Regions from separate parts of the Homo sapiens genome. Here regions 2 and 3 are each linked to region 1. The links come from fine-mapping of genetic effects on gene expression. A gene starts in region 1. Each other region holds a variant in brackets. All regions are shown on one strand. Distances are between the middles of the regions.

The links. PIP is the estimated chance that this variant, and not a neighbour inherited with it, causes the effect.
Region 2: its variant is fine-mapped to the expression of LTBP3 in whole blood (TOPMed, PIP 0.98).
Region 3: its variant is fine-mapped to the expression of LTBP3 in whole blood (TOPMed, PIP above 0.99).

The regions. Positions count from the first base shown.
Region 1 is chr11:65,557,012-65,559,729 of GRCh38, reverse strand. LTBP3 (latent transforming growth factor beta binding protein 3) reads left to right here and starts at 1,371. Exons shown (of 28, transcript NM_001130144.3): 1 at 1,371-2,101. The coding sequence starts at 1,771. RefSeq lists silencers at 1,093-1,252, 1,303-1,542.
Region 2 is chr11:65,532,022-65,534,771 of GRCh38, reverse strand. It overlaps SCYL1 (SCY1 like pseudokinase 1), which reads right to left. Exons shown (of 18, transcript NM_020680.4): 9 at 1,967-2,080. Among named protein-coding and RNA genes, the nearest start is that of SCYL1, 8.3 kb to the right of the region's middle. The variant T/C (reference allele first, on the strand shown) is at 1,624.
Region 3 is chr11:65,593,687-65,596,436 of GRCh38, reverse strand. KCNK7 (potassium two pore domain channel subfamily K member 7) reads left to right here and starts at 637. Exons shown (of 3, transcript NM_033347.2): 1 at 637-983; 2 at 2,563-2,750. The coding sequence starts at 665. The variant C/T (reference allele first, on the strand shown) is at 1,486.

The DNA of each region.
Region 1 (2,718 bases):
TGTGCCTGGCAGGTGGTCGGCACCTAGCATTATTCCCTGCCTCCGTGTGGACCAGGGCCCCAAGAAGCAGGGGCTTGCCCCTCACACCCCATCCTGGATTCCGGCAGCAGGGATCCCTGGGGACATGTGATTGTCCCTCCCAGCCCTGCACCGCTTAGTAAGGGGGACTTACTAAGCGTCCCCCTAAAGCTACCCACATCAACTTACGCTCAAAGTAAAAACAGAGTTCCTTGGACAGGTGTGCCTGAAAGTGAGTCCCTGAACCTCCTCTCCCCAATTAGACTGCTGCCCCGGGTGCTGTCCGGGAGAGGGTCTGGTGCCGCCCTGACTTGGCAGCGCTTTTCCTGGATGTGCCCTAGCCGTCCCCACCTCCTGCTGAGTTCTGTGAGTCAGAGACGGAACCCTGGGGTCTCCTGGCAGGCCCCACAGTAAGGCCTGGGCCCCCGCACGTTGCAGCCTTTCCTTCCAGACCAGCGGACAAGCCTGGTCTGGAACTATGCTCCTCTCCAGCCATGGCCAACCTGAAGACCCCCACCCCCAGCCGCTGCCAGCCCCTGCCCTGGGGCTCTGCTGTGCCCCTCTCCAGCCCCTGGGCCCTCGGACAGCGCCCCCGTCCTCCCGGCTGTTAGCCTGGGAAGGGGGCCAGGCCCTGAGCTCAGACCTTGGCGATTCCAGAGTGTCTGAGGCCCAGAGCCAGCCCCGCCAGCACGGCCAGACGAAAGGAAAGGGGGGAGGTGGCAGGGTGGGCACCAGGAAGCCATTCCGAGGGGGCTGGCAGGGAAGCTGGGTTCTAGCTTTGTTCTTTCTGCTCCTCTTCTGGACCCCACAGACTTCCTCCTGGGACCTCCGTGAGCCCTGGCCAAAGGCTGTCCCCACCCTTTAGCCCTTTCCTCAGAGGGGATTGGACCAGCACTAACGAGAAGTTACTTTGGGGCCCTGAGACCCCCACGTTTGCAAGGGAGGCTGGGAAAGAGCTGGAAGGCCTGGGCTCCGGCTCCACCCGGCCTCCATCGTCAGTGTGACCCGGCAGGGCCACCTCTCTCCCTCAGCCTCGGTATCTCGCTCTACGCAGGCCTCCCCGCCCCGCCCCGCCCGGAGGAATCCGCGGCCGGCCAGACGGTCCCAGGTGAGGGCCCTCTGGAAAGGGCCCAGCGCGGCCGCGGGTTCCGGCGGGGGCGGGCATCTGGGGTGGGGACTGTCCCCGCGCCACCCCCCAGCCTCCGCCAGCCTGCACACCCTCGCTTCTCCAGGCGGCAGAGGCGACGCTTTAAACAACAAAAAAAAAAAAACTGTGTCCCTGGCCCGGGGCCAGCGTCCCAGCCCCCCTCGCCGCCGCCGCGCCGCGCTCCAGCCAGGGAAAACAACTGCTCACTTCTCCCTGAGCCCTCCCCGCGCGCTCCCTGCCTCCCCGCGGCCGCGGGAGAGGAGCCCGGCCAGGGGGAGGCGCGGAGCGGGCCGGCCGCCCGGCCTTCCTCTCCCTCGCTCCTCCTCTCCGCCTCAACTTGCTCCGGCCTCCTCGCTCCTGCCTGAGTTCGGGGCCTGGTCTGGGCTTCGTCCTGGGGCTGGGAAGTTTCTGCGCTCCCCGCTGTCCAGTCTGCATCTCCGCGCCTCCCGCCGGGCCCCCGCGGTCCCCTCCCGCCCGCTTCCCCCGCTGCCCTCCCTCGCTGCCCCCTACCCTCTCCCGGGGCTCCCGGCCCTCTACTCCCTTCGGGCGCGGGCCCCTCGCCCCGCCCGGGCGCGCCCCCCCTCCCCCGGGTCCTGCGGCCCCGGATGCCCGGGCCCCGAGGGGCTGCTGGCGGCCTGGCCCCTGAGATGCGCGGGGCGGGGGCGGCGGGGCTGCTGGCGCTGCTGCTGCTGCTGCTGCTGCTGCTGCTGGGCCTGGGCGGCAGGGTCGAGGGGGGGCCGGCCGGCGAGCGGGGCGCAGGCGGGGGCGGGGCGCTGGCCCGCGAGCGCTTCAAGGTGGTCTTTGCGCCGGTGATCTGCAAGCGGACCTGTCTCAAGGGCCAGTGTCGGGACAGTTGTCAGCAGGGCTCCAACATGACGCTCATCGGAGAGAACGGCCACAGCACAGACACGCTCACGGGCTCCGGCTTCCGCGTGGGTGAGGGCCGGGGGCACGGCTGGGGGCAGGGGAAGGACAGGCACCAGGCCCGGTGGGAGAGCTAGTGGGGTCTTGGCCTTAGAGACTGGGGGCTGAGGGTATAAAGGGCAGAGATCCGAGGGCCTGGGGGACCAGGGGCCTCAGGGAACTTGGGAGGCTGGAACTCTGGGGGCCAGAGTTGGAGGGCTGCATGGAGGCCTGGACTTTGAAGCTTTGCGTTAGGGTTGGGGCCTAAGGGGTGGGGAAATGCAGAGGTCCTGGATGACACTGGCTTCCCAGAAGGTGCTGAGTTCTGAGCAGGAGCACACAGGGTTTTTGAGGAATGTGAGCCGGGGACAGGAAGCCTCAGAGAAGGGCTAAATATTCCCGCAAGAAGCAGACTTGCTGGAAGAAACAAGAAAAGTCTTTACAAAATGTCTAAAGTAGGGCCTGCCAGAGTAGACACCTGCATTCCCTGGGAGGAGGAGCTAAGGTCAGGGCTGGGGATGGGAGCCGGCTACTGGCAAGGTCTGAGTAGGGAGGGTGTTGAGGCCTAAAAGTAGGGTGCAGGCCTGAAGGTAGGGACTAGTTCGGGGTTCTCAGCCTCTCCTTTTCCAATGCCTCCCCATAAGCTCCTA
Region 2 (2,750 bases), 25 kb after region 1:
TCTGACCTGGCTGGCTGCTCCTTTTGCTGAGACTCTAACGTTCACACACCCGGAGCCAATCTAGAGGGCTCTTTTCTATCTAACACTCTTGCCCTAGGTGATCTCAGCCATTTCATGGCTTTCAATGCCATCTTGTGAGCTGACAACCCCCAGGCACATACCCCTAGCCCAGACTTCCCTAAATTTCACACATGCATAACCAGTGGCCAACTCGACATCTCCATCCAGCTGCCTAACAGAAACAGCCAAGATGGGGCCCAACATGCTTGTGTCATCTCAGTAAATAGCAACTCCTAACCTTCCAGTTGCTCAGGCCACAAGCCTCAGAGCCACTCTCGTCTCCGTATCTTTTTTGTTTCTGAGATAGAGTCTCACTCTGTCACCCAGGCTGGAGTGCAGTGGTGTGATCTCTACTCACTGCAACCTCTGCCTCCTGGGTTCAAGCAATTCTCCTGCCTCAGCCTCCTGAGTGGCTAGGATTACAGGCGCCCACCACCATGCCTGGCTAATTTTTTTAATTTTTATTTTATTTTATTTTTTTGAGACGGAGTCTTGCTCTGTTGCCCAGGCTGGAGTGCAGTGGCGCGATATCGGCTCACTGCAAGCTCCATCTCCGAGGTTCACACCATTCTCCTGCCTCAGCCTCCCAAGTAGCTGGGACCACAGGCGCCCACCACCATGCCCGGCTAGATTGTTTTTGTACTTTTAGTAGAGACGGGGTTTCACCATGTTAGCCAGGATGGTCTTGATCTCCTGCCCTTGTGATCCGCCCACCTCAGCCTCCCAAAGTCTGGGATTACAGGTGTGAGCAACCGGGCCCAGCCATTTTTTGTATTTTTAGTAGAGATGGGGTTTTACCATGTTTTACCATGTTGGCCAGGCTGGTCTCAAACTCCCATCGCCTCAGGTGATCCACCCGCCTCGGCCTCCCAAAGTGCTGGGATTACAGGCATGGGCCACCAGGCCCGGCCTAAAATAATTTCTTAAATTTTGAGATGAGGTCTCACTCTGTTGCCCAGGCTGGAATGCAGTGTCACGATCACAGCTCAATGCAGCCTCAACCTCCTGGGCTCAAGCTACCTACCTGCCTCAGCCTCCCGAGTAGCTGGGACTATAGGCGTGCATCACCATACGCGCCTAACTTTTGTATTTTTTTGTAGAGATGGGGTTTGGCCATGATGACCAGGCTGGTCTCCAACTCCTGGGCTCAAGCGATCCTCCCACCTCGGCCTACCAAAGTGCTGGGATCACAGGCGTAAGCCACTGCGCCCAGCCCCTGACCACTGTTTTTAAAACCACAAACTCTTCTCCCCACACTTTCCAACAATGCATATTTTCTTTCTTTTTTTGAAACAGAGTTTCCCTCTTGTTGCCCATGCTGGAGTGCAACGGCATGATCTCGGCTCACTGCAACCTCTGCCTCCCAGGTTCAATTGAGTCTCCTGCCTCAGCCTCCCGAGTAGCTGGGATTACAGGCATGCGCCACCATCCCCAGATGGTTTTGTACTTTTTAGTAGAGACAGGGCTTCGCCATGTTGGTCAGGCTGGTCTCGAACTCCTGACCTCAGGTGATCCGCTTGCCTCAGCCTCCCAAAGTGCAGGGATTATGGGCGTGAGCCACCG[T/C]GACCAGCCAACAATACATATTTTCTAATTCTGTTGTATTGTCTGGCAAGCCCACCCTCTGTGCCCTGGAAAGGAAGCTCCATGAGTGCAGGGGGCTGGGCACCTCATGCATGCTGCCTCCCAGCATGGGGCTTGGGCCAGGAACAGGCAGATGCTCGTTGTCTGCTGAATGGAGGACGTGCTCCCCCGCCAGCTGCCGAGCTGCACCCACGGCCTGAACCCACACAGCAAGGACAGTGTCTGCTTGGACCCATGGGCCAAAGCCAAGGCCTCTGTGTCTAGGGTGAGCCCCTCCAAGCCTTGGAAAACCAGGGGTAGCCACTCTGGGCCTGGCCACACCCACCTTGACCGTCTGCTCCCGGATGGCAGGGTTGGTGTCCAGGAAGCCATGTACGACGTGGGGGAAGATCTGGGTGTTGACTGTTGGCTCGTCAAGGTACTGGATGAACTGCTCCATCTGTGGCCCAGGTTGGGATGCGTCAACATGGTCAGCCCTTCCCACTCTATCCCCATAGCCATGGAACCGCTCCTGGCTTAGCTTTTCCACCCAGCAGGCACTGGCCAGCCAGGTCAACCTCCTGAGCCACCACCCAGGTGTTTGGCCTCAGGCCCAGGTGGAGGAGTGAGGAAAGGCCAGGAGGGCGCTAGGAAGGCCTGGCTCATAGTCCGGCTCATCTGGCCACCCTCTCAGAGCCTCTTCTATTTTTTTTTTTTTTTTTTTTCTGAGACAGAGTCTTGCTCTGTCACCGAGGCTGGAGTGCAGTGGCGCAATCTCAGCTCACTGAAACCTCTGCCTCCCAGGTTCAAGCAATTCTCCTGCCTCAGCCTCCTGAGCAGCTGGGATTACAGGCACCCACCACCGCACCTGGCTAATTTTTGTATTTTTAGTAGAGACGGGGTTTCGCCAAGTTGGCCAGGCTGGTCTTAAACTCCTGACCTCAGGTGATCTGCCTGCCTCGGCCCTCCCAAAGTGCTGGGATTACAGGCATGAGCCACTGCGCCCAGCCTGAGCCTCTTCTATAAATGAGGGTATCACCCCTTCCCTGCTCCTCCCCACCTGCCCACAGTGCCACGAGGAGGACTGGTGTGTTTGGTGGTCACAGAGGGAATGGCACTGGGAGCCACTG
Region 3 (2,750 bases), 37 kb before region 1:
AGGGCCTGTGTCCTTATCCCCCCTTCACCCCCAACTCTCCCCTGCCACAGCCAGCCCTCTGTTCCTCTCACACCCCAAGCTCATTCCTACCTTCACTGGCCTCTTACTCCCCAGCTGAAATATCACCTCCTTAGCAGAGCTTTCCCAGTGAGATAACCCCCCCGCTCCCCGCAGAGCTCTCCCATCACCCAGGGTGTTTCCTTCATGGAACTCATGACAATGTGAGGTTGCCATGTTTCTTTGCTAAGAGGTTTCTTGTGTAAACACCAGGAAGGAAAGGACCTGTGCCTGTCCTCTTCCCTAAGCACTTGAATGAATGAATGAATGAATGAATGTGGTATGGGTGCCTGAGTGAGCAGGACCTTGAATAAGTGTGAGGTCCTCTCTAGGCTTCAGCTTCCTCCGCCTCCTCCCCTCACCGCAGCCGCCTTCCTCCACCCATCCCCACCATCCCAGCTGCTGTGAAATGGGCAAATGTCTTGCCTCCAGGACCTGGGAAGGGTGATGCAGCTCACCTCCCTCCTGTTCACACCCCAGCCACCCCAGCCATCCCAGCCGGGTCCCAGCCACCCACACAGCACCTCCTCCTGGCCCCGCCCTGCCCAGCCCCTCCCAGGTGCCTGAGGTGGAGCCGCCAGTTCCCACAGCACCCCAGCGGCCTGCCATGGGGGGTCTAAGGCCCTGGTCCCGATACGGGCTCCTGGTTGTGGCCCACTTGCTGGCCCTGGGGCTTGGGGCTGTGGTGTTCCAGGCCCTGGAGGGGCCTCCTGCATGCAGGCTTCAGGCTGAGCTCAGGGCAGAGCTGGCAGCCTTCCAGGCAGAGCATAGGGCCTGCCTGCCACCCGGAGCTCTGGAAGAGCTGCTGGGCACTGCCCTGGCCACCCAGGCCCATGGGGTCTCCACCCTGGGCAACAGCTCAGAGGGCAGGACCTGGGACCTTCCCTCAGCCCTGCTCTTCGCTGCCAGCATCCTCACCACCACAGGTAAGAGAGCCAGGCAGCCAAGTCGGGGGGTGCGGCTCCAAGAGGCCATGGCTCCCTGGGGGCTTTGGGGTTCATGCAGCCCTTCCTTCAGCCCCAAAGAGCCAGATGGAGCCCAGGCCCTGTGAGGCCTGACATCACAGCTGGGGCTCCCCACCAACACACCCCAACTGGTGCCTCCACTTCAACTGCCAGGAAGGGTGTGGCCTCCCCAGTCCCACCCCAGGCACCCTTTGAGACCCAGGAGAGCTGCCCAGATGCCACAGCCTGTGGCCAGATAGGGGATACAATACAGTGGGATGGATTCTTGGATGGAAGCAAATAGAATGAACCTGGGAAGGACAGATCAGGACCATGGCCTCGGGTGGGGGAGTGAGGGAAGATAGGGGAGGAAGTCGGCATGAGATGCTTGTGGATCAGGAGGGCACAGACAGGGATGAGGGAGTCCTGCAGAGAAATCGCGTGGGCACAGGCCCAGGGAAAAGCAGCAATGAGACCCACAGCC[C/T]TGGGTTTTCGTATTTTTTGCCCCACAAAGTGTCTCAGTATTTTTTGAATTGGAATTTGTATTTCCAACTTTTTTTTTTTTTGAAACGGTGTCTGACCCTGTCACCCAGGCTGGGGTGCGGTGGTGCGATCTTGGCTCACTGCAACCTCCACCTCCCGGGTTCTAGCAATTCTCCTGCCTCAGCCTCCTGAGTAGCTGGGACTACAGGCATGCACCACCATGCCCGGCTAATTTTTGTGTTTTTAGTAGAGACGGGGTTTTGCCATGTTGGCCAGGCTGTTCTCAAACTCCTGACCTCAAGTGATCCACCTGCCTCAGCCTCCCAAAGTGTTGGGATTACAGGTGTGAGCCACTGTGCCCAGCTCATATTTCCAACTTCTTTTGGAAAATCAGGAAACCCACTCACACTGAGCCAGAATCCCTGCAAGGCAACATCCTGACTGGAGCAGAATGGGGCCTGCCCTTTGGATACAGCTCACACTTTCCAGTGTACCCCTGTCCCCACCACTCCTGTTTGTCTCCCATCTGGCTCCGGTAGGCATGTGCGTTTGCAGCTCTGTATTAGCTGATCCTGTTCTCCCAGCACACCCCGCACTCCCACCCCTCCCCGCCTGGCACATGCCCTCTCTCGCCCATGCTGCCTCTTTGCAGCCCTTCATGATTTGCCTGCCCGACTCCCCCACCAGAAGGGGCAGGGCCTGGGCTGATTCAGATCCCAGTACAAAGCCTGGCACACAGGACATGACACACATTTGGGGAAAGAGTGGATGATATTCCACCAGCTGTGGAATCGGGAGTATCTGTTAAGGGCAGCGCAGTTCTCAGAATTGTCCCAGCTACAAAAGGCCTGAGGAACTGTCTTCTTTCATCCTTTCATTTTCCAAAAAAGAAAAGAATGGCCTAGAGAGGGTAAGGGATCCCCTGACGAAGAGGAGCAGAGCCAGCTAGAACCTGGGCCTGGCCAGTTCAAGGCCACCAGAGGGCAGCCTTCTGCGGAAGGCAGTATTGGGGTAGGCAGGGACCCCAGCAGACATGGCACTCAGAGCTCTCACTGTCCACTGACTCTCTCTTCTCCAGGTTATGGCCACATGGCCCCACTATCGCCAGGCGGAAAGGCCTTCTGCATGGTCTATGCAGCCCTGGGGCTGCCAGCCTCCTTAGCTCTCGTGGCCACCCTGCGCCATTGCCTGCTGCCTGTGCTCAGCCGCCCACGTGCCTGGGTAGCGGTCCACTGGCAGCTGTCACCGGCCAGGGCTGCGCTGCTG